Linked DNA regions of Homo sapiens: all the other regions are reported to be linked to region 3. Evidence: microRNA targets listed by miRTarBase, many of them from high-throughput screens and not tested one by one. Region 3 holds a microRNA gene; each other region holds the end of a gene's coding sequence.

Region 1 (7,517 bases), not on the chromosome of region 3:
ATGCCAAGAACTATGCCCAATACAGGTAGGATCTCAAATATTTGTTGAATCAGTCATTTTTAATCAAAATATGGAAAAATGTGTCAGGCGTATGTGCACACGCACACCCTCCTCCCACACATTTATGGTTTGAAAAGCATCTTAATGACATTCACCTGGGGCTTTATCAGCTTATGTTGGTAAGTTCAGTATGGTCCAGGTAGTAATTTTTTTTTTTTCCCTTCAAAGTTTCAGAGTACTTCAAAGGACATTTAGTCTAGCTCTTGGTCATGATGTTCCCTTCTTGAACTGGATATCATGGAGTATCTTATATTAAAAATCCATAAAAGTGGTTTGAGGAGAGATTGGTAGATGAGGAAATAAAGACAATAAATACAGACAGCTCTTTCAAGAAATTAGGATATGAAGGAGAAGGAGAAAACCATAGTAAAAAGTTTGAAAGAGGTGGAACAAGCAATTTTTTTCTGTCTTTATGCATTTATGGATATATAAATAGTTTTATTTTGTTTTGTTTGTTTAGAAGTAATAGATGCTCAGATCAACAACAAATTTCGAAAAACAGAAACTATTGAAAAATAGAAAAGTAAAGACTGACCCATAATCCTACTGCCAGATAGAAATAATTTTGGTACATGTTTATTTATTCAGTAAGTTTTGGCTTATTCTGCTTTGTAAATGCAGAGCTGTGTCATCATGCTGATGGCTGACTAGAATCACATTATTTGATGTATATGGTTATTGTAGACCATACATTTATCCTTGACTATGTGTCTCCAAACTAAACTCTTGGAAAGGTCACTGCTAGACAATGTGAGATGGTCTATTTCCCCAAACTTAAGCAAATGCTAGGTATTATTCTTTTTAATTGTTTTAAATTTAAATTTTTTATTTTATCTATTCTTTTTAGAGACAGGGTCTTGCTCTTTTGCCCAGGCTGGAGTGCAGTGTTATGGTTGTAGCTTGTTGTAACCTCAAACTCCTGGGCTCAAGTGATCCTCCTGCCTTGCTAGGACTACAGTGCATATCACCACTCCCAGATAATTTGAAAAAAAAATTGTAGAGACAAGGTCTTGCTATGTTGCCCAAGCTGGTCTTGAATTCCTGGCCTCAAGTTTTCCTCCTGCCTCGGCCTCCCAAAGTGTTGGGATTATAGATGTGAGCCACTGCACTCAGCCAAAGATTCTTTTTAAATGTTTTGCGAATATGATAGGCAAATCTTCAATTACTAATAAGGTTTTGAAAATGTCTTCATATTCATTTGCTGTTTGTATTCAACAGAGTAACCATTTATGTTTTTAGGTCATTTTTCTAGCCAGGATCCTATATTTTTCTTATTTTAAAATATGTTTTATACATTAAGGGTATTGGCCCCTTTATTTATGTTGCAAATTTTCTTGTGCAAATACAACATGCATGACACTTTGCCATGAACTGGGGCTCTGGGAGATAAGCATGCAGTGAAGACCCGTAAGTGTGAACCACAAGGTACACTTGAGATGGTGCCAGTGGCTTCTCATTACTGCAGTGGAAGAACATAGATGGGAGAGTAGGTCAAAGTGAGTGATGTGACTCATAGGATTATTAACAATCTCTCTCTCTGTTTTTCTTGTCTCTTTTTAGTTTTCTTCAGCCTCCAAAGCCTCTGTCTTCACTCAGCACTCTGAGGGATGGAAATTGGAGAGATGGTTGCTACTAATGCAGTTTTATGTACCCTTGAAAAATGGGAAAGAAGTAAAAATGAGGGTTGTGTTACCTAGCTGGCTGGGTAGCAGTGGATGTTGGGATATTCTTTCCCTTTTGTGTTTTAATATATTTACTGCATTGTTTCTCAATGGACCAGTCACCAGAGACTAATTATTGCACTTAAATATTTGCCTGAGATACTGCAACATTCTCAAACCCATGGTTGCAGTATTGTGACACTTAGATCTAGGAAGTTTTTGTAGAACTGCTCTGTACCTGAATACTTTTTGAGAGAATTAAGATGTATCAATAATGCTTTGCCATATGAGTTTTTTAAAGTAACTTGTTCAATTTACTCACGTGTTCTAAACATCTTTCCATTACATGTTCTGTATTTTAATACATTGCATATTGACAACTAGGTTCTATAATGTATGCTTTGAAATTTACTTTTTTATAGTTTACAGGAATTTTATTTTTTGTGCCTATTTCTTTTTACACCTATGTGAACCACTATGGAACAACTTAAATTTTGTGCCATAAAAATATTTTTGTGGTAAGGTACTATTTTTTTAGCTCTAGGGATATATCAGCAAAAACACATCATGCAATTTGAGACACATAATTTTGTGTTGAATGAGCACAACATAATTTGAAGCATTGCAAGGAGATAACCAGACAGCAGAATTAAATGGTCCTGTCTTTTTCATTTTTAATTTATTGTCATACATGGGTTTCATATTTATAACGGCATCATGAGCTCATTGCACTTAATACCTGCAATGTTTGCTACTGTACCACAATTGATTTTCAATACTTTATTACGAAGGATGAAACTGTAATGTTTTATTAACAATGCTTCTGGAAATGAATGCATTTTAAAGCAAATAAATCTTTTTGATAGACCTTTTACAAAATCCATTTGCACTAATGAATGCTTTCTTATGGCATATAACTTAATATTTGTTACTGTGTACACTGCTGTTTTGGAATGTTCAGAAATAAAGACTCTATTTCAGCAATATCAGGTCATGCATGAATGTACAGCATAAACAGTGTAACTACACATGTGTTTCACTACAATTGTGAAAATGCTTATTGTTACTCTGTTCTTGTGCAGGGCATTTATATCTCAAGCAGGTAGACTTAGAATATTCACATTTGTAAAATTATTCTTCTTTTCCCAAGTACTCCTGATAAGAATTGTATGATTTTTCTTACATTAGTTTTAGTTAGGTAGTTTTACAGGGAGGTTTAGGTCCATTTAAAGAGGCCACTAAAACTCACGCAGCATGTTGCTGAGAAACACATTTACAGATGAACATTGTCAGTGGAGATTTTAATATTTTATAGGAGTTGAATTTGAAATACTTTCTCAGTATCAGTAAAATAGCAAGTACTATCCTTATTCTGCATTATATTTGATATATGTTGGAAAACTTTACTTGAAGGTACTGTGGGAAGTTTAGGCAAAGATTTTTAGGTTAGGTTTTGAAATGGAGTTCTACCTATAGTCATTAGAGGTTTTTAGTTTTTTTAAAGTGTACCTTTGTATGTAATTCTCTCTAGAACTAAAAGGAATGTTTGTTTAAATAACTTGCACTTTAAGTGGAATGTGAGCTAGAGGAGGTAAGATATGAAAAGGGAAGTAATATTTATTAAGCACCCCTTCAGTCAAAAGAACTGTGCAAGATATTTTATATACATTTGTCTAGGACTAACTTTCACCTACTATTATCACCATTTTAAAGATGAAGACACTAAGTCCCACAGAGGTGATTATTTGTCAGTTTTTGCATCACTATAAAGGAATACCTGAGACTGGGTAATTTATGAAGAAAAGAGGTTTAATTGGCTCATAGTTCTGCAGGGTGTACAGGAAGCGTGGTGCCAGCATCTGCTTGGCTTCTGGTGAGGCCTCAGAAAGCTCACAGTCATGGCGGAAGGCAAAGGGGGAGCTGGTGCATCACATGGTGAGAGTGAGAGCAAGGGGTGGGGCGGGGTTTCTACACTTTTTAAAAAAACAACAAGATCTTGTGTGAACTCAGAACAAGAGCTCACTTATCACCCAGGGGATGGCACTAAGCCGTTCATGAGGGATCTGCCCCCATGATCCAATCACCTTCCACCAGGCCCCACCTCCAACACTGGGGATCACATTTCAACATGAGATTTGGAGCAGACAGATATACAAACCATATCGTTCTACCCCGGCCCCCAAGTCTCATGCCCTCCTTGGATTGCAAAATGTAATCTTCTCTTTCCAACAGTCCCCCAAAGTTTTAATTCATTCCAACATCAAGTCCAAAGTCCTAAGTCTGATGTGAAACTCATCTCCTTCCACCTATGAGCCTGTATTATGAAAACAAGTTATTTACTTCCAAGATAATGGTGGTACAGGCATTGGGCAAACATTTCCATTCCAAAAGGGAGAAATTGGCCAAAAGAAAGGGGCAACAGGCCACATACAGGTCTGAAACCCAGCATGGTAGTCATTAAATCTTAAAGCTCCAAAATAATTTCCTTTGACCCCATGTCCTCCATTCAGGACACACTGGTGCAAGGGGTGGGCTCCCAAGGCCTTGGGCAGCTCTGCCTCTGTGGTTTTACTGGGTGCAGCTCATGTGGCTGCCCTCATGGGCTGGAGTTGAGTGCTTGCAGCTTTTGCAGGCTCAGGATGTAAACTGCCAGTGGCTTTACCATTCTGGGGTATGAAGGGCGGCAACCCCCTTCCCACAGCTCCACTAGGCCATCCCCAGTGGCAATTCTGCAGGGGGGCCTCCAACTCCACATTTGCTCTTAGCACTGCCCTGGTAGAGGCTGCTGTGAGGGCTCTGCCTCTGTGGCAGGTTTCTGCCTGGCCACCCAGGCTTTCTGATGCATCCACTGAAATCTAGGTGAAAGCTGCCATGCCTCCTTCACTCTTGCATTCTGTGTACTTTCAGACTTAACACCATGTGGAAGCCACCAAGGCTCATGACTTGCCCTCTAAAGAGGCAGCCCAAGGTGTGCCTGTGGCCCTTTGAGCCGAGGCTGGGCCCAGAGTGGCTGGGATGCAGGGAACGATACCCTGAGACTGCACAGCGCAGTGGGGCCCTGGGCCTGGCCCCTTAAACCATTCTTCCCCCATAGGCCTCCTGAGCCTGTGATGCATTGGGCTGCCTCAGAGATTTCTGAAATACATTTGAGGCCTTTTCCCTATTCTCTTCGCTCTTTTTCAGTCATGCTGATCTCTCAAGTGGTTACTCCACAGGCCACTTGGATTCCTTCTCTACCACAGGGCCAGGCTGTGACTTTTCCAATTTTTTTGTTTTGTTTTGTTTTGTTTTATACAGAGTCTTGCTCTGTTGTCCAGGCTAGAGTGCAGTGGCATGATCTCAGCTCACTGCAACCTCCACCTCCTGGGTTCAAGTGATTGTCCTGCCTTAGCCTCCAGAGTAGAGTAGCTGGGACTACAGACATTCACCACCACACTGGCTAATTTTGTATTTTTAGTAGAGACAGGGTTTTGCCATGTTGGCCAGGCTATTCTCAAACTCCTGACTTCAGGTTGATCTGCCTACCTCAGCCTCCCAAAGTGCTGGGATTACAAGGTGTGAGCCACTGCACCCGGCTGACTTTTCCAAATTTTACTCTCTGCTTCCCTTTTAAATATATATTCTGACTTTTAAGTCATCTCTTTGCTTCTGTATCTGATTATAGGCTGTTAGAAGCAGCCACAGCACTTCTTGAATGTTTTGCTGCTTAGAAACTTCTGCCAGATACCCTAAGTCATCTTAAGTTCAACCTTCCACAGATTCCTAGGACATCGGCACAATGCAGCAAGCTCTTTGCTAAGGAGCGACAAGGGGGACCTTTACTCCAATTCCCAATAAGTTCCTCATTTGCATTTGAGGCCTCTTCAGCCTGGCCTTCACTGTCCATATCTCTTGTCAGCATTTTAGTCATAACCATTCCAATCAGTTTCTAAGAAGTCCCAAACTTTTTCTCATCTTCCTGTCGTTAGCCCTCCAAACTCTTCTAACCTCTGTTACCCTGTTCTAAAGCCACTTCCACATCTTCAGTTATCTTTATAGCAATGCCCTACTCCTCAGTACTAATTTTCTGTGTTTATTTTTTTGCATTGCTGTAAAGAAATACCTGAGGCTGGGTAATTTATAAAGAAAAGAGGTTTAACTGGCCCACAGTTCTGCAGAGTGTACAGGAAGCATGGTGCCAACATTTGCTCAGCTTCCCAAGAGGAGTCAGGAAGTTTACAATAACGGCAGAAGGCAAATGGGGAAGTCAGTGTATCACACGGTGGGAGGGAACAAGAGAGAGAGGGCGGAGGTGCCAGGCTCTTTAGAGCTCTCATGCGGACATATTACCCTGGGGAGGACACCAAGCCATTCAAGAGGGAATCTGTCCCATGAGCCACAAACCTCCCACTAACCCACTTTCGACACTGGGGATTACATTTCAACATGAGATTTGGAGGGGACAAAATATCCAAACCATATTAGTGACATTAGTCTTGGGTAAACATTTAGCAATGTTTAAATAGTGCAGCTTACCTTTGAATCCAGGTTTATCTGGCTCAAAAGTCTTATTTTTCCCCACAACTATGCTCTCTTCCAATGAACACAGGTAGCTGGTATTTTTTTTAATCACTTTTTATTCTGCAGAGAAAAAGGATTCGATTCGTTCTCCATTCAAATGTTTGATTTATATTCAAAAAAGTCTGCTTAGCCCTTGCAATAAAATAACAAAGATCCCTTCATCTTGGCTTTTACATTCTTGTTGGGGAGAAACCATAAACAGGTAAGAAAATCACTGCAGGTTAGGTCATAAGTTCTGTGGGGGAAAAGAGGAGATCAAGACAAGAGGAGTTAAGAGAAAATAGGGGTGGGGAGAAATCATACTATTAAAAGGGTCACCTCAGTAGATATTAATATAGGAGTTAAATTATTTAGGCAGTTAGTGAGGGTACAGGAGTCTTTGGTAAGGTTTTCCTTTAATGAAAAGGCAGCCCCCAAATCATTTCTTTTCTAACAAAAAAAAAGCAGCCTGAAAAATCAAGCTGCAAACATAGATAAGCAACTGGAAGCTTGCATACGTGAATGCCGGCAGCCGTGCCAGAAGCATCCAACATGGAGGTTTTCTCTTCCCTTTTCCTTGTCACCACATGTGCAGGTGTCATGGCGCTGGCCAGGTAGAAACCCCATCTGTATAATAAAAGATTAGAGTGGGATGGCCAGCGTCTTCGAGGGCTATGTAAATGTCACACCTGGTCCAACCAATCCCCTGGGCCTTATGTAAATCAGATACCGCCTCCTCGAGCCCCTCTATAAAACCAACCGCATCCCGCTGCTAACAGGGAGATCCATTCGGAATCCCCCTCCCTCTACATGGGGCAGCTTTTCTTTTGTTTCTTTCACCTATTAAACTTTCCGCTCTTAAACCCACACCTTGTGGTCTTCATTTTTCTTAGTGCGAGACAACGAACCTCGGGTGTTTCCCCAGACAAACGATGCCACTTCAATATCGTTAAGGAGCTAGTATGAGCAAAGGCTTGACGATGGAGAGTTAGTCCTGAAGATGTTTCACAACCTTTTTCATCTGGAGTTCTACAGAACATGAAATAGTTGTAGTGACTATTTTCACAGTTCTTCCCAGGAGGGTTTATAACTATTATTATTTTAAATGCACAGGAAATAATTTAATACATTATAGATAGCGGATGTCCCAGGGCAGTGGTTTCAAAGTGTAATTCTAACACCAGCAGCATCTTTTGAGAATTTGTTAGAAGCTGATATTCTCAAGCATCATCCCAGATCTATTGAATGAGCCCTCTG
Region 2 (7,517 bases), not on the chromosome of region 3:
AAAAAATTAAAAATATGATCAATAATTTAAAAACTATAATTATCAATAAATACATGAAGATGTTCAACTTCATTAATGATTGAACAAATACAAATTAAAATATGCTTTATCATCAGATTGCAAATAATTTTTAAAAATTCTAATAATTAAAATTATCCTATTTATGGAGAAATAGGTATTGGAATGAGTGTAAATTTGCAATACAAAATTGATAATGTATATTTAAAGTCCTAATAATAAACATACTTTCTTGTCCCAATAATACAATTTCTACAAAATCCCTTTATGGGAAAAATTAAATTTTACAGAGAATTATGTAAAAAAACACTTCAATGTTATTAAAGGGAAACTTGGAGAAAAAAATATCCAATAGTAAGGGATTATTAAATAGCATATCATAGATCCATAAAAAGAAATACTGTTCAGCTATTAAATATATTTATATTTTATTATTATGCAAAGAAACACCTTAGCTTACAGAGCAGCATATATGGTATATTTCCAAAATTATTTAAAAATATACATTTATACAGATATATATTTTCTAAAACTATGTATCATGTGAATAAAAAGGTTTGTCTTATATGTTCTTTTTTAAAAAAGCGTTTATCATAAGGAAATATCTGAACATGATTTAATGTATGTTAGCATTGCTTCTCAGCCTTTTGGCTAAGATCAAGTGTAATATGTTGTTAGCAAGGACACCTAAATCTATATGAGGTTTCCAGAGAAGAATATGGTCACTACTGAACATCTCTTCATTTAACCAATCCGATTTGTGGTCTGTTGTTAAATTGAATTCAAACAAGATATATCTCCTTTGATTTTTATTTCATAACATTTAGCAAATATTTTATTTCAGATACAAATGATAAGATTTTGCCCAATCATCATTCTTTGACACTGGCTACAATCACATGCCTCCAGTAAGCAAAAATTTGCCCAAAAATGTGGTAGTCAGAGGCAACTTTGAAAGGCTTATTTCACACGTTCTTCTAAAAGAAGTTGAGTTGGTGATACTTTTATAGAACGTGCAATTTCATGAGCCAATTTCTTTTTTTGCTATTGAACAATTCAAGAAGTATTTTTAAGTTCTCTATCAGTTTAGCATCCACTTTTCTTTCAACATTTTTTGCTGCTTTTAAATACCTAAACACCTGCTTACACCATATATATCTGTGATCATGAAAAATTACTGTATTTCACTGTCGATGAGTCCAAAGAAAATAATTAAACTCTGCCCTAGAAAAATAAAAGCCAAAGAAATAATCCAATTGAATTAATAGCTTGACCCTAAATAACAGTTTGAGTCCAACATTTCATCAAATAGGAAAATTAGAAGGATCTTGACTGATTGTTTTCCTTTATTGACAGTAGTATATTCAGGAAAAGGTAGAATAAACCGCCTTTCTTTAAAGAAAAACAAAGCCAGCAGTGGTAATTTTAAAAAAAACTACCTATCCTTAATGACAAGTATTTTCTAATCATTGTTTTTAAAATTAATATGTATTGAGGAAAAGAAAATTTTTAATGTTTTCAACTATAGTTATTACACATATGCAGAAACAAAGCCTATACTTAATTATAGGACAATTGATTGTTCCCAAAGCATCTGATTACTCTTTAATTTAAAAAAATACATGTCTATTTCAGTGAATCACTATTTGAAGTACAGAAATACAAAGTACAGCCTAAACTTGATATTACTATGTCCTCAAATCACTGTATCATCTCTTCCATGAAATGAATGTGACAATAATTTGTATTTGCAAATTCATTCTATTTTGGGAGCTGTTTCTGAAAACCATCTGTAACCAAAGTAAACAATATTTTAATGGGGGATTACTGAGCTGGCTGAATACATTGTGATGCAATCAAAAGTTTTCTGGAATTTTTCAAACCACAGTTTTAAGCTGCATTTGAATAAAACTTAGCTATTAAGGGGAAAAATAATTCATAAAAAAATTTTTAGTCTTAAATATACTTTCAATGTATTTAACCATCGTAAATGTGAAGATAAGAGTATTGTAAAAATACATGATATCAGAGAATTACTTAAAGAAAAAAACATATTTAAATTTTGAGCCGCATATTTTTATAGGTTCTTAGAGTTTGGTGTAGCAATCCTGTTTTCTGGAGCCATTTTTGTTCCTTTGTCTACGACTTCTAGCAACATTTTGCAAGAGTTGAAAGCAGAAATGTTGAGGTGCCCATGAGGATTGTTATTCATTACCCTGACCAGCTTTAGGCAGGAGATATAAAAACATAACCAAAAAAGCCACTTTTATGACAGTATTTGCAGATCAATCCTGCGTATTCCACGCTTGTAAGATTTGGAATGTTTGTAGCTGAAATTTATTTTTCTTTCTAGATTGCTTTTTACTGAAAGAATGCAACAAAGAGAGCTGCCAAGAAAATACAGTTATTCCCCCAAATAGTTCAAAGAACTATGCCAGGTAAGTATTTGTTGTTCATATTTTAAATATTATATTATAGTCTAAATACTAGTCACCTCAAATATGAACTGAATTATTTTAAAAGCATTTTATTAGAAAATAGGTCATGGCATAAATGGCTGCTTCTTAAAAGTCACCAGCCTCAGTGTATTTAGAAATTAAAGTGAAAAATACTTTCTTTAAATCTTTTCAGTCACTACCAGGATACTCTGTTCTTGAGACTGATTTTAACTGTATAGTTTCTCAAAACTTCTGTCAGGCGAAAATTAGCATCTGCTGTCATCAGTACGCCAGGAATTTAAGAAATGTTCTCAAAAACGAGTAGCATTGGAAATATAAAATATTTATTTTTATAACTTACTAAATATTTATTTTTATAACTTACTTTGTTTTAAGTTGGCCTCTAATCTTTTTTTTTTTTTTGAGACGGAGTCTCGCTCTGTCCCCCTGGCTGGAGTGCAGTGGCGCGATCTCGGCTCACTACAAGCTCCGCCTCCCAGGTTCGCGCCATTCTCCTGCCTCAGCCTCCCGAGTAGCTGGGACTACAGGCGCCCTCTACCGCGCCCAGCTAATTTTTTTTCGTTTTTGTATTTTTAGTAGAGACGGGGTTTCACCGTGTTAGCCAGGATGGTCTCGATCTCCTGACCTCGTGATCCGCCCGCCTCGACCTCCCAAAGTGCTGGGATTACAGGCGTGAGTCACCGCGCCCGGCCAAGTTGGCCTCTGATCTTAGTTTACTAGTCTGAGAAAAGCTTTTATTGAATTTCACAAGTGATTCCCACATTTATTACATGTAATGGCATTCATAAGCATATTAAAAATGTGATTGGGATTATTTTAAATGCATTTATTTCAAATTAAAAAAACAAAATGACAAACTCAGGTATTATGTATGGTTTCTGAAGAGGAAAATATAGTCTGACAGCAGATGGTAAATATGGGAAGTAGGAAGTAATTGGGGTCGTGTGAATAATGAGTTAAAAATATGTGGATCAGTCTTTGGAAAAACTTTGTAGTGTTCATCCTTCTGAATCCTACTGAAAAAAAAATCATCCTAACCATGATTTCATACTATTTTCAGAGAAAGGTGCTTTCATGCTGTTATGAATTTCCACAGAGCCACAGGGTCTGAGATAGAATTACACGAAAAGGGCATTATGCAATAAGATACCATGGCATGCCAGGAACCCAGTGTAGATTAAAAACAAGTAGAGTTCTTTCAGATTTTTGGCACCTTTGGAGTGAATTAAACCCAGATAGTTCATGAGAATATCTTAATTTTCCTCAAAGAATTTTAATTCCAAAAGGATATTGGGGTATAATGTAGCTAACCTATGCATCAGTTTGAAGACAGGAGGATACTGAAATACTTTAAAAAGATGGCAAGTTCCACTAATAAAAATTACTCTGGCTTCCCTGTTTGTCAGTGTGTTGACAATGTGATAATGTGTCAGGTGTCTTATGCGGCAGGCAGATCATTTTAATTCATCATAAAGAAAGTGATGTCTCTTTTCAGTCAGCCATGTGGCCTTTCCTACCACTTTGTGTTCTCTGGATCAAATTTCATTTCAGGATTGCTTACAATTCTCTAATAAAGATATGGCCATGATACAAAAACCTCCCATTTCCCGAATGTTATATCTATTCGGAATCCCTTTTTCCTATTTCATTTTCTTACTACATTGGAATTCTTACGTCTATTTGGCTACAACCATTAGCTCTCCTTTTAGCTACTTCTAAGGGGTCCTTTTCTCTTATTTCTGGAAATTATTTTCCTGCCCAAATGAATTATCCTCCACTTTGTCCCTATTGAACTCAATTTGATTCATATCTTCCCACTTCACTAATTTGTCAAGATGTTTTGAATTTAAATCCTCTTCTACAGTAAGAAAGTCAGTCCACCCAAGTAGATGTCATCAGCACAAGCAGACTTTGTATTAATTCAGGTGATTAATGGAAAAGTGTCTGTTTCATGCCTGGGAGACCTCAATTCGAATGGTCTATTCTCAGTTAATTTTAAAATACTGACAACTACTGAGGTAAAATGTATTACATGAAAGGAAAATGTGATACAAAAAAATTATTTATTTCTGGGATACTCTCTATATATCACGCTAGATTAAGTTAAAATATATCAAATTAATTTTTGTCAGTCTGATCATTCTAAAGCAAGTGTAATCAATTAACTGATGGGTTTTTGGAAATTTTTACTGATTGTTTTTCTGTATTTGTTTCGGATTGAGGCAGGGGAGGAAGGCTGGCAATGTTTCCAAGCATTTCTGCTTAGAATATGAAACAAATGAAAAACAATGTGATAAAGCTATAAGTAGGACTAAGGCACCCCATGCGTGTGCAATCATGCATGATGCAAAATACATTATGTTAATAGCATCCTTTACTTCTTGCATTAGTCCCATTAGAACTGAGGACTCTGATTAGCTTCTTTAGCTTATATTTCACATCAGAGACTCTGCATATTCAGACTATAAAACCACTGTTGGATTAACTTACATATATCAGACATAACTTTAAAAATGTATGACTATTTTATTTTCCTCACTGTGGTGAATACTATTATTTAATACTTTTTTCCTACTTTTATCTGTGGCTTCATAAAACACACAAAAAAATCCATTCACTGTATTCTTCAAATTAGAGAAATAGCTTAATATATGCCCATTCTTAGGCGCCCTTTGATTACACAAGGATTTATTTTTTTCCTGCCATAATAAAAAAATTCAGAAATGAAAAAATGTAAATAATCCACTAATTATAATCATCTGGATTTGCACAAGTGCAGATAGATTTGAGACTTTGTTAATCATTGATATTGAAATCTATAAAAATTAAGAAAATTAATGTAGGGAGACCAAAGTTATTTACAAAGGATCATTTATTAAACACATTTTAAAAACAAAATACAAAGATAGTTGTTCTGCATGAATACATCACATATGAAAAAATAATGTGTTTTTACCGAATTTAATTTGAAGATATTCAGAATTTTGTTTTCTATCAACTTGAGCAACCAGTTTCGCTTTGCACCTTGTCTAACACTGTTGTCAATCAGGAAGAAATGTTTTCTTGTTAATTAAATCATATTCATACAGCTAATATTTTACAGAAATAAAATAAGACAATGTCTGTCATACAAAGCTCTTTCTGCAAGGTAACTGATTTGCCTATGATCCTAATTGTTTTAAGCTATAAGATAGGAAGAATTCAGGAGCTAGGTAAGTTTTATAATAACGTATTAGCAGCAGTTGATAGTAAATGCAACATAAGATTTGTTTTGTCTGTGGTACAAGAATATGTCCTATCAGACTCTACTGTATTTTTCTCTACTTGAACACAGGTAAGCACATACTGATTGTCTCTGGGATGACAAAATGTATAAAAAAGACAAGAAACTGGCTCTGGTTGTCATTGTGAGTGCCTATTTTCATCAGCTAATATGAATGCATTGCTAAATTAGTGAAGACAGGAAAATGACTTAAGGGTAATATATACAGAGTTAAAATACACTTTTTATCCACTTGAGTGAATTCAGGCACTGTGGCTGTTCAGGATAAAATGTTTCATGGTTTATTCTTGATAGCAATTTAATTTTCAGTGCAAGCAAAAGCAAATACCTGCCCACTGTAATACACATGATCTCACACATCTGGAATGTTCAATGCAAGTTCATCCTCGGCATCTTCACTCTGGAGACATCTTGAATAAAAAACCGTTCATAGTTTGCTCTTGATAGCAATTTAATTTTCAGTGCAAGCAAAAGCAAACACATACCTGCTCACTGCCATACGCACGACCAAACACATCTGGAATATTCAAAGCAAGTTCACCTTCTCCATCTTCACTGTGGAAGCTCTTTAATAAGTGGCACTTTGTGTAAACCCTCTATAAATCATGAAAAACAGATTCGAAATGCCTGGATTTAATAATATTAAACATCACTGCCATAGTCATCTCTCTGTGTAAACGATATTTGGGTAAGGCTTGCCATCACAACATTTCTTTCCTGAGAATGGAGCTGGTCCTCTGTTTATATCATAAGTGCGCATGCTCTGAGCTGTGGTCACTGTCGTGACTGTCTTCATTTGCTATAGAGTCCCCTGTTTGCTGGAGGGTGGCTGCACCAATTCCCGACAGCTCTGATGGGAGAAGTGTTCCCTTTTTCACATTCACCAGTTCCTTTTCCCGAGCCGCAGCTCCTTGCTGTCCACCCTTTACCCTCTTCCACTTCATCCGCCTGTTTTGGAACCAGACTTTCACCTTCAACCAAGAAAGGGAACAAACAAACAGAAAAAAAGAGATAATTAAAGTGACATTTTTTTCTCCTTAGTGTCATCAATGAAAAGAAGTTCCTCAAAGGCTTATACAAAGACACCATGAAGGAGTGAATAGAAAAATAAATCCACGTTGAATTTAATCAGGTTACATGTTCATGATAATAATTTTTAAAGTTTCAAAAGGTGCATACAAAGTACTATATTTGTATTTTACAGCATACAATGTAAAATATGGAACTAAACAAAAACTTTGTCATTTAAGGCACTCAAAGCACTTGCGTCTATAAAGAGCTTCTGTGAATTGGAGCTAACATAATATTTGTGTTGGTCAAAGCCCCCCACTCCTAAGTTCTTCTTTGATTTGACATCCAGCTGTCATTTCCTGAACCAATTTAAAACATGCTCCTGCAGCTACTGATTAAGCGGCATCTGAAAGGCCATACTCTGCCATCAGAAACTACTGCTGCTTTCACAAATCTTTATTTGACCATTCCACCTCACACTGAGCCTATCTTCTTTTGAACTCTTCTTTTTATTTTCTACCTTAATTCATTTATTTTACTTTGCAAATATTTGATCTAGTGATTTCTTTAAAATATGGTCACAATAAAAAATTCTCAACATTTGTTAAATGCTAACACCAAGATTATATACTACATCATTCACATCAGCTTTGTACAGGTATTTTCTTTTTAAAAGCTTCATTGAATTTGCCTAATACATTTAAATAAATATATATATTTAAATAACATATATGTATTAAAAACAA
Region 3 (7,517 bases):
CAGAAGTACTTCTGGTCAAGGAGGGGTTGGAGACGGGCAGGAAATTGCACCCCTTGTATCTTCCAAGGTCTCCAAATCCAGCACGAGGGGCATCTGGGAACAGGGTTTCTGCCAGCCCCACCTTGGGGCCGCATTTGGCGGGAACTGGATCTGCCTTCACCTGCAGCCCTGTGCGGGGCGTGACGGAAAGAGCGGGGAGAGGGGCGTCCTGGTGCGGGGGTTGTTGAGGTGAGAAGCCAGGGGAGGGGGCTCCGGGAGCGCCCTGACCTCGCGGACTGTTGGGAGGCGGAGGGGATGGGGGTTGGGGGAGAAGAGGGGAGCCTGGCAGCCAATGGGAGGGAGGATCTCGTTTCAAAAGGGTTAACCCACAGCCAATGGGAGCCTGGGGGAGCGGATCCTGCTCACTCCATTCAAGAATCCCAAGTATTCAAGATGGACGGCAGGGAGTGTGGAAGGAGAAAGGGGGCGAGGGGGGAAGAGCGAGATCGGCAGAGGAGAGGGTCTCCGCGGCCCACCGGCCTCGCAACCTCGGTCCCGGCCGGCGGGTGGCGGGGCGGCCGCTGGGGATCCAAGCCCGGCCCGGGAGAGGGGCTGGCGGGGTGCGAGAGGGCGTGAGCGAGGGGGAGCGAGGCCAGGGAGGGGAGCCAAGAGGGAGGGAAGGGCAGAGAAAGAGCCCGGGAAGAAGGAGGTGGCAGGCAGAGGATCCTAACGAAGAGCAATGTGTAGGTATCGAGAGCTTCCCGAAGGGTAACGACACCGATTTTCGGTTTTATTCTCTCTTGGGGAAGGGAGGGGGACGGTCTGGGCTCTTTCTCTCGTCTTCCTTTTTCCCTCCTCATTCTCCACTCGTGGGCATCTTTTCTATTTTTTCCTTTGGAAACACTGTAACTGGGAAGCACCAGGCGTGTCTTTCTGAGGTGGCCTCACTGTCATTTTCCAGTGGGGGGCGTGGTGGGGTAGGGATGGGGGGCTCCGCTGGGCACGGCCGAGCTGGGCCATCTGTCTCCACCTGGGTTGTGTGCGAGGGCGTGGAGTGTTCCGAGGGGGACCGGGGGCCGAAGGGCTGGAGCAGGGCAGGGAGTTCTGCACCTCCAGAAGTTGTAGGGTGAGCCAGGGGCGGTGTGGGGGTGTGAGGCTGGTTTTCGAGCTGATAGTTGTGGGGTGTTGAGGGGTGCGGGGATGTGTGTGTGTGGGGGGCGTGCGCTCACACTCCAGTTCTTGTTGTTTGGGTGTGTAATGAGGGCTGAGTTGTGCAGCAAGTATGGCTGAGAGTTTGTGTGTGTGTGTGTGTGTGTGTGTGGTGTGTACGTGCGCCTGTGTGGTCCAGCCTCGAGGTGTGTGTGTTCGGGGGGAGCACAGTTGGGTGTTGAAGGAGAGCGCCCCTCACCCCCCACTTCCCAGCTGCCTCTCTCATCCCATTCACAGAACATGGCTTTCAGGACCCTCCTGGTCTCCTCCTCCCGTCGCCATGGCTGCGAGGAGGGGGTGGGAGGAGACAGTTGGGGCCAGCCCCCTGCCCCTGCTGCTCCAGCTAACCCCCCACCTGCCCTTTCTCTCCCTTTCACAGGCTGGGCCCCATCCCCTGCTGCTCTGGGGGCAGGGGCCGGAAGATGGTGGCCAATGAGGAGGGGGAGAGGAGAGAACTTGAGCCGGGGCCTCCCCTCCCCCATTTCCTCCTCGGTCTCTACACTCGCTTCTGGAAGGAGCTGGGGGCTGGCTCCTGGGCCCAAGGTGGGGGAGGGGTCCTGCTGGCTGGTGAGTCGCTGGGCCTGCTCCTCAGGAATGAGTTGGGTGTGTGAGAGCTGAGGGGCTCTTGGCCCTTTCTCCCTGCACTCCCTAAGGAGAGACCTGGAAACTTCTTGGGGAAGAATCTTCCCCTGGCCTCCCTGAAGCTTGCTGTGCAGCCTTATCTTTGCCCCTCTGCCCCCTGTTGGTGTGATCCAGTTCCCAGCTGGGCCTGGTTTGCCCAACCCCAGAGCAGAGAGGTCACTGACCCTCGAGGGGTCTTGGTTTCCGCCCATTAAAACTGTAGGGCAGGGCCCCATGTTTGCAGATTACGGGAACAAACTCTGCCGGGGAGAGCGGGAGGGAACGTCTCCTGCTTCCTGAGGGGGTGGGACGAGGCTAGAGGGAAGCCCAGAGGAAGAGCTCCCAACTGGAATTCTGTCCTCTATTCCTTACGGTGGCTGTGGATTAGGGAAGAAGGCATCTCCCCTTCGTTGATCGGGGCACTGGAGGAATCACCCTCCAGCCTCTGTTTCTCTGGGCTGCCCAAAGTTCACTGGGTCAGAACTGGAGCTGGGCTCCGGGGCTGTGGCCCTAGCTGGAATGTGCCACAATAGAGCCTGCCTGGGTCTGAGCCTCCAGATATCCAGGTGTCCTTCCAGGGCAGCTTTCTGGCTTTGGGTGTTAATCTTCCGGGGACTGTTTGTCCTGTATTTAAGCCCCCTTAGGGTTGGATAGGATGGGGAAGTGCTAGGATGAGCTTGAAGACTCCCCAACCAAGGGTCCCTGGATAAGACAGGAAATAACTCAGATGTGAATCCCACTGCCAGTGAAAGCCTATCCCTAACTCTCAGTAACTGTGAGCGAATCACCCTCACCATTTTAATGCTGAATCTGCAAAGTGCTTTCAGGACCTCCAAAAGGAGATGCAGGGGTGGGGCTTCACCAGCAGCTTTCACCTCCCCGCCTGGAAGCTTCTCTCTACTGCGTGGGGAGCTGTGACTACAGGCTCCCACCTCTCTGGTCCTGGAAGGTCATCTGAGAGTGTTGCCTTGAGGCCTAGAGCTCTGCTTTATCTAAATTTAAAAGGAGATGGAAACTTAGAGAAGAGTAGAGGGTTCTGTAGTCTTGGGCAGCAAGCTCCTCTCTAGAAGGTAAGCTAGCGGAAATGCAAATCCAGATGAACACAGCCTCATACGAGTGACCTCCAGACTTTGGGGATTGCTAATAGCCGTTTTCTTTGAGGACTGAGCATCAAGCCCGAAGTATCCCTGCAGCTGCTTTAGTGGGTCCTGTCCTCCCATGCCAAAACCTCCAAGAAAAAGGTGGTCTCTGTGCTGGGGGTCAGGGGGTTGGTGAAGAAGGCGGCAAAAGGAAGAGTGGTGAAAAAATAGAATGAACACTAAGAATGGAATAAAAGGGAAAAAAGCTGTATTGAAGCAAAGAAGGGGCAGAGGGAGCCCGTGAGCTGAGTGGGCCAGGGACTGGGAGAAGGAGTGAGGAGGCAGGGCCGGCATGCCTCTGCTGCTGGCCAGAGCTCTTTTCACATTGTGCTACTGTCTGCACCTGTCACTAGCAGTGCAATGTTAAAAGGGCATTGGCCGTGTAGTGCTACCCAGCGCTGGCTGCCTCCTCAGCATTGCAATTCCTCTCCCATCTGGGCACCAGTCAGCTACCCTGGTGGGAATCTGGGTAGCCTCACTTGTTAGTTATACTAATAGCTCTCATTTATGGAACTACTTCTGTATGCAGTGCTTGTGATAGACACTGCCTCCGTTACTGTGAAACCTAATAACTTCTGGGAGGTAACAGCCCCATTTTATGGATGAAAAACTGAGGGTCAGAAAGGTTTAAACAGTTTGGCTAAGATTGTGTAGCTCTTAGGTTGCAAAGCCTAGATACAACCCTGTGTTAAGTCTTGACAGCTCACTCATCTTTTTGTAGACCCATCTGGAGAGATCTGAATAGGTTCTTCAAACTGGGAGATTTCCTGAGCTGAGGGGTGGAAGGTTTTGATGCCATCTGCTGGTTGTATGAGGATATCTTCCAAAGCCTCAAACCTTTAAGGACCAGAAGTGGTGGCAACTCCTTAGGCTAAGAAGGATAAGCATTCCCAGACTCAGCCCGGAATGGAGAGTGAGTGGAAAAAGATTAGGAGAATCACTATTAGGTACAGAGTAGGCCTCCTTGAGAAAAAAAGGAATGCACCAGAAAGGAAAGGGGGTTAACTCGAGAGGATTGCTCCCCAAAGAAAAGGACCTGTGTGCTGCTGGCATCCCATACCTACAGCTCCTTCCCTGGCTCATGAGGCATGGAAAGACCTCACTCCTTCCCTGAATCCACTTACCTTTCTCAGCACCACTCCCTCTTGGTCACGGGGTGTTTGATGGTAATGCTGCTTGAGGGCACACCTGTCTGGGCATCCAAGATTTGGACAGCGTTGCCCATGACTTAATCTTAAAGATTAATAGGATCCCTTGAATCAACCCACAGAATGATTCTCCCAGGACCAATTACAAGGAAATTGAGGCCGGGTGCGGTGGCTCACGCCTGTAATCCCAACACTTTGGGAGGCCGAGGCGGGCGGATCACCTGAGGTCAGGGGTTCAAGACCAGCCTGGCCAACATGGTGAAACCTCGTCTCTACTAAAAATACAAAAATTAGCCAGGCGTGGTAATGCACGCCTGTAGTCTCAGCTACTTGGGTGGCTGAGGCAGGAGACTCTTGAATGAATCTTGGAGGCAGAAGTTGAAGTGAGCCGAGATTGCGCCACTGCACTCCAGCCTGGGCAACAGAGCGAGACTCCATCTCAAAAAAAAAAAAAAAGAAAGAAAAATTTGAGAGCAATGACTCAGCCATTTACTTCTCTGTCTCCCACAGTGCCTAGTAGGCTTAATTAAAACTTGTTAAAATAAATTGAATGAGAGGAATATTTGGGGAGCTTCTTTAAGAAGGCAGCTAGTATTCCTGGTCTTTTGGCTAAGATCAAGTGAAGAAGGCAGCTAGTTTGTGCCTGGTTTTCAACAGCAGAGTTTGGGACTTGAGAAATCTTCCCTAAACTTTGGTGCAAGAAATGGGTCCAAGAGGAATAGGGTTTTGAGGTCCTCTGCTGGACCCTGAGAGGGATCTTGGCATCATGAGGCATGTAGAAACTGAAAGATGGGTCAGACTCCCCTGAGGCCTTAGTTGAGGGATGTTGGACATCTCTCCATGGCTTGCCTTTTTCCCTTGCCCTTTTACTTCTGTGCCTTCCAGTTCTAGTCCTCCTTTCTCCTGCCCAGACAGCCTCTCCATTCTGATCACAACAACAGTATTTGAGATAGTACAGTTAGCTTTATTTCCCTTTTTTTTTTTTTTTTAAGACAGAATCTCACTGTCGCCCAGGCTGGAGTGCAGTGGCGCGATCTCGGCCCACTGCAACCTCTGCCTACCAGGTTCAAGTGATTCTCCTGCCTCAACCTCCTGAGTAGCTGGGATTACAGGCGTGCACCACCATGCCTGGCTAATTTTTGTTGTCCAAGCTGGTCTGAAACTCTTGGCCTCAAGTGATCGCCCACCTCAGCCTCCCAAAGTGCTGGGATTACGGGTGTGAGCCACCGCACCCTACCATATGTTCCTTACTTTCTCCAGTCTATTAAAACTTCTATTTGAGCCTCTTGTCTGGGCACAAATAGCCATTTGATACTGCCACTCCACTCTAAAAAACAATAATTTTCCCATATTTCCCTAATACCATTGGGATTAAATCTAGATTCCCTAAATAGTTTATGGCTCCTGCTTCTCTTTCCTTTCATGTCCTCTCACCCACTTTTTAAGGAGACAAAGTTTTGCTCCAGCCCAGGCTGGAGTGCAGTGGCGTGATCATGGCTCACTGCAACCTCAGCCTCCTGGGCTCAAGTGATCCTCCTGCTCAGCCTCCTGAGTAGTCGAGACTACAGGTGCAGGTATGGCTTTTTTTTTTTTGAGACAAGATCTTGCTATATTGCCCAGGCTAACCTCAAAGTTTGGCCTCAAGCAAGCCTCCAGCCTTGGCTTCCTAAAGTGCTGGAATTAAGGCGTGAGCCACTGCTTTCAGCCCACAAGCAACTTTTATTTCCTTCAATTAACTAAACTTAAGTTACTTGACACATACTCTGTCTGAAATACTTCCATCACTTTTGCCTTTGCCTACCTAACTTCTTATCTTTCAAATGCCATCGTAGTCATCGCTTTTGTGAAGCCTTCCTTGACTCCTTACATCTAAGCTGAGTTCCTTTCCTATGAGCTCCCAAGCTTCCTCCACGTCCCTGCTTAGATCCCTTATTATCATCTTCTACTGGGATTTCCTGGTTATTGCATCTCCTACTGGACAGAAAGCTCCAGGAAGTCAGGTCACAGCTGCCTTATCTTCACCATGTGCTTAACATCTAGTGCTTAACACAATGCCTGGCAAGTAATAGATGCTTTATAAATATTTGGAATATTAATGAATGAATCTGGAAAGAATATTATAGCTTACCAAAAAATGATCTTTATGATGTATATGGTCTCCCCTGTAACTGTTGGGCACCCAACAACAGTAGGGATTTCATACCACTGCCAATAAAATGTCCCTTGGGTCATATGGTGGCATTGATGTTGCGATTTTGAGCTTTTTTTTTTTTTTTTTTTTTTTTTTTTTGAGACGGAGTCTTGCCCTGTCGCCAGGCTGGAGTGCAGCAGCACGATCTTGGCTCACTGCAACCTCTGCCTCCTGGGTTCAAGTGATTCTCCTGCCTCAGCCTCCCAAGTAGCTGGGATTACAGGCACGTGCCATCATGCCTGGCTAATTTTTGAATTTTTAGTAGAGACGGGGTTTTGCCATGTTGGTCAGGCTGGTCTCAAACTCCTGACATCAGGTGATCCACCAGCCTCGGCCTCTCAAAGTGCTGGAACTGCAGGCGTGAGCCATCGCGCCCGGCCTAATTTTTGAGCTATTTTGTTTCACTTCCCATCAACTGCCAGAGCAGCACTTTGGCTGACTGATTTTCCTTTTAGCCTTAAGTGTGCCCATGAACTGACCAGAGCATTACAGAACCAGGCTGAAAAGCCACGGGACTCAAGAAAATCCTTATTCTGAGATGAGCCTCTTTCAGAGCCCGATCCTGGATCTAGGCAAAATGGACTTACTGTCAGGGGTGCCAGCAGACACAAGCGGTTTTGGATGCTCTCGCCGAGTAGCTAACAAAACCCACCCCTCTTACTAAGGCAAAACTTCACCTGAACGCTTATTCCCCGGTAAAAGCTCAAGCAGTAGTCTTGCCATAGACAGGGCAACTGCTGCCCCCTAGTGGTATAAAGGGACAGGCCCGGGTGGGTGGGGGTGTGTGTGTGTGACGGGGACAGTTTATGGGTACATGCACAGGGAAAGAAAGTCAGAGGACAGGTTGCCTCAAGTTGCTTTTTCCCTTTTTATTAAAAATAGACTCAAGCACTTTATGTATCATACAAAAGTTTCATTCGCTGGTGGCAGCCACGGGAAAGACTGGCCCCGTAGCACTGATTTTCCACCTCCCCTCCAGGGGACTGGGTCCCAGGAGCAGTGACTGGGCCTCAGAGAAAGCCCATAAAGACTGCTTACTCTGGAAGCAGCCGACTAGGGGCTGTTCCGCGAGCAGCTGTCCCCACCCCACCCAATGGCAAAAGTTAGATACTCGAAAGTGCCTCTTCAGTGCCAAGATAAACTAACAAGTGGAGTGAAATGGAAAACCCTTTGATTATTTTACTATTTCCCAGGGCCTGGGATTTGAGTTTTCCCTGCACTCAAGTCCTT

The links. The annotated mature microRNA hsa-miR-130a-3p reads CAGUGCAAUGUUAAAAGGGCAU and lies in region 3 at 3,302-3,323, shown strand. An mRNA with a match to its seed (bases 2 to 7 or 8) in the 3' UTR can be bound and repressed. Matches are read on the target gene's strand: a 7mer-m8 pairs with bases 2 to 8, a 7mer-A1 pairs with bases 2 to 7 and ends in A, and an 8mer does both.
Region 1: the mRNA of SLAIN1 is a reported target of hsa-miR-130a-3p. Seed matches in the 3' UTR shown: 7mer-m8 at 1,858-1,864, 7mer-m8 at 2,448-2,454 and 8mer at 2,606-2,613.
Region 2: the mRNA of MEOX2 is a reported target of hsa-miR-130a-3p. Seed matches in the 3' UTR shown: 7mer-m8 at 6,221-6,227 and 7mer-m8 at 6,068-6,074.

Annotation. Positions count from the first base shown.
Region 1 is chr13:77,761,525-77,769,041 of GRCh38, forward strand. SLAIN1 (SLAIN motif family member 1) reads left to right here. Exons shown (of 7, transcript NM_001242868.2): 7 at 1,621-2,705. The coding sequence ends at 1,696. Among named protein-coding and RNA genes, the nearest start is that of EDNRB-AS1, 54 kb to the right of the region's middle.
Region 2 is chr7:15,605,881-15,613,397 of GRCh38, forward strand. MEOX2 (mesenchyme homeobox 2) reads right to left here. Exons shown (of 3, transcript NM_005924.5): 3 at 5,332-6,731. The coding sequence ends at 6,507. Among named protein-coding and RNA genes, the nearest start is that of AGMO, 48 kb to the left of the region's middle.
Region 3 is chr11:57,637,951-57,645,467 of GRCh38, forward strand. MIR130A (microRNA 130a) reads left to right here and starts at 3,248; the gene lies at 3,248-3,336. YPEL4 (yippee like 4) reads right to left here. Exons shown (of 5, transcript NM_145008.3): 5 at 7,137-7,517. It overlaps MIR130AHG (MIR130A host gene), which reads left to right and starts at 426. Exons shown (of 2, transcript NR_186232.1): 1 at 426-722. RefSeq lists silencers at 350-539, 560-619 and enhancers at 1,466-2,045, 5,320-5,819.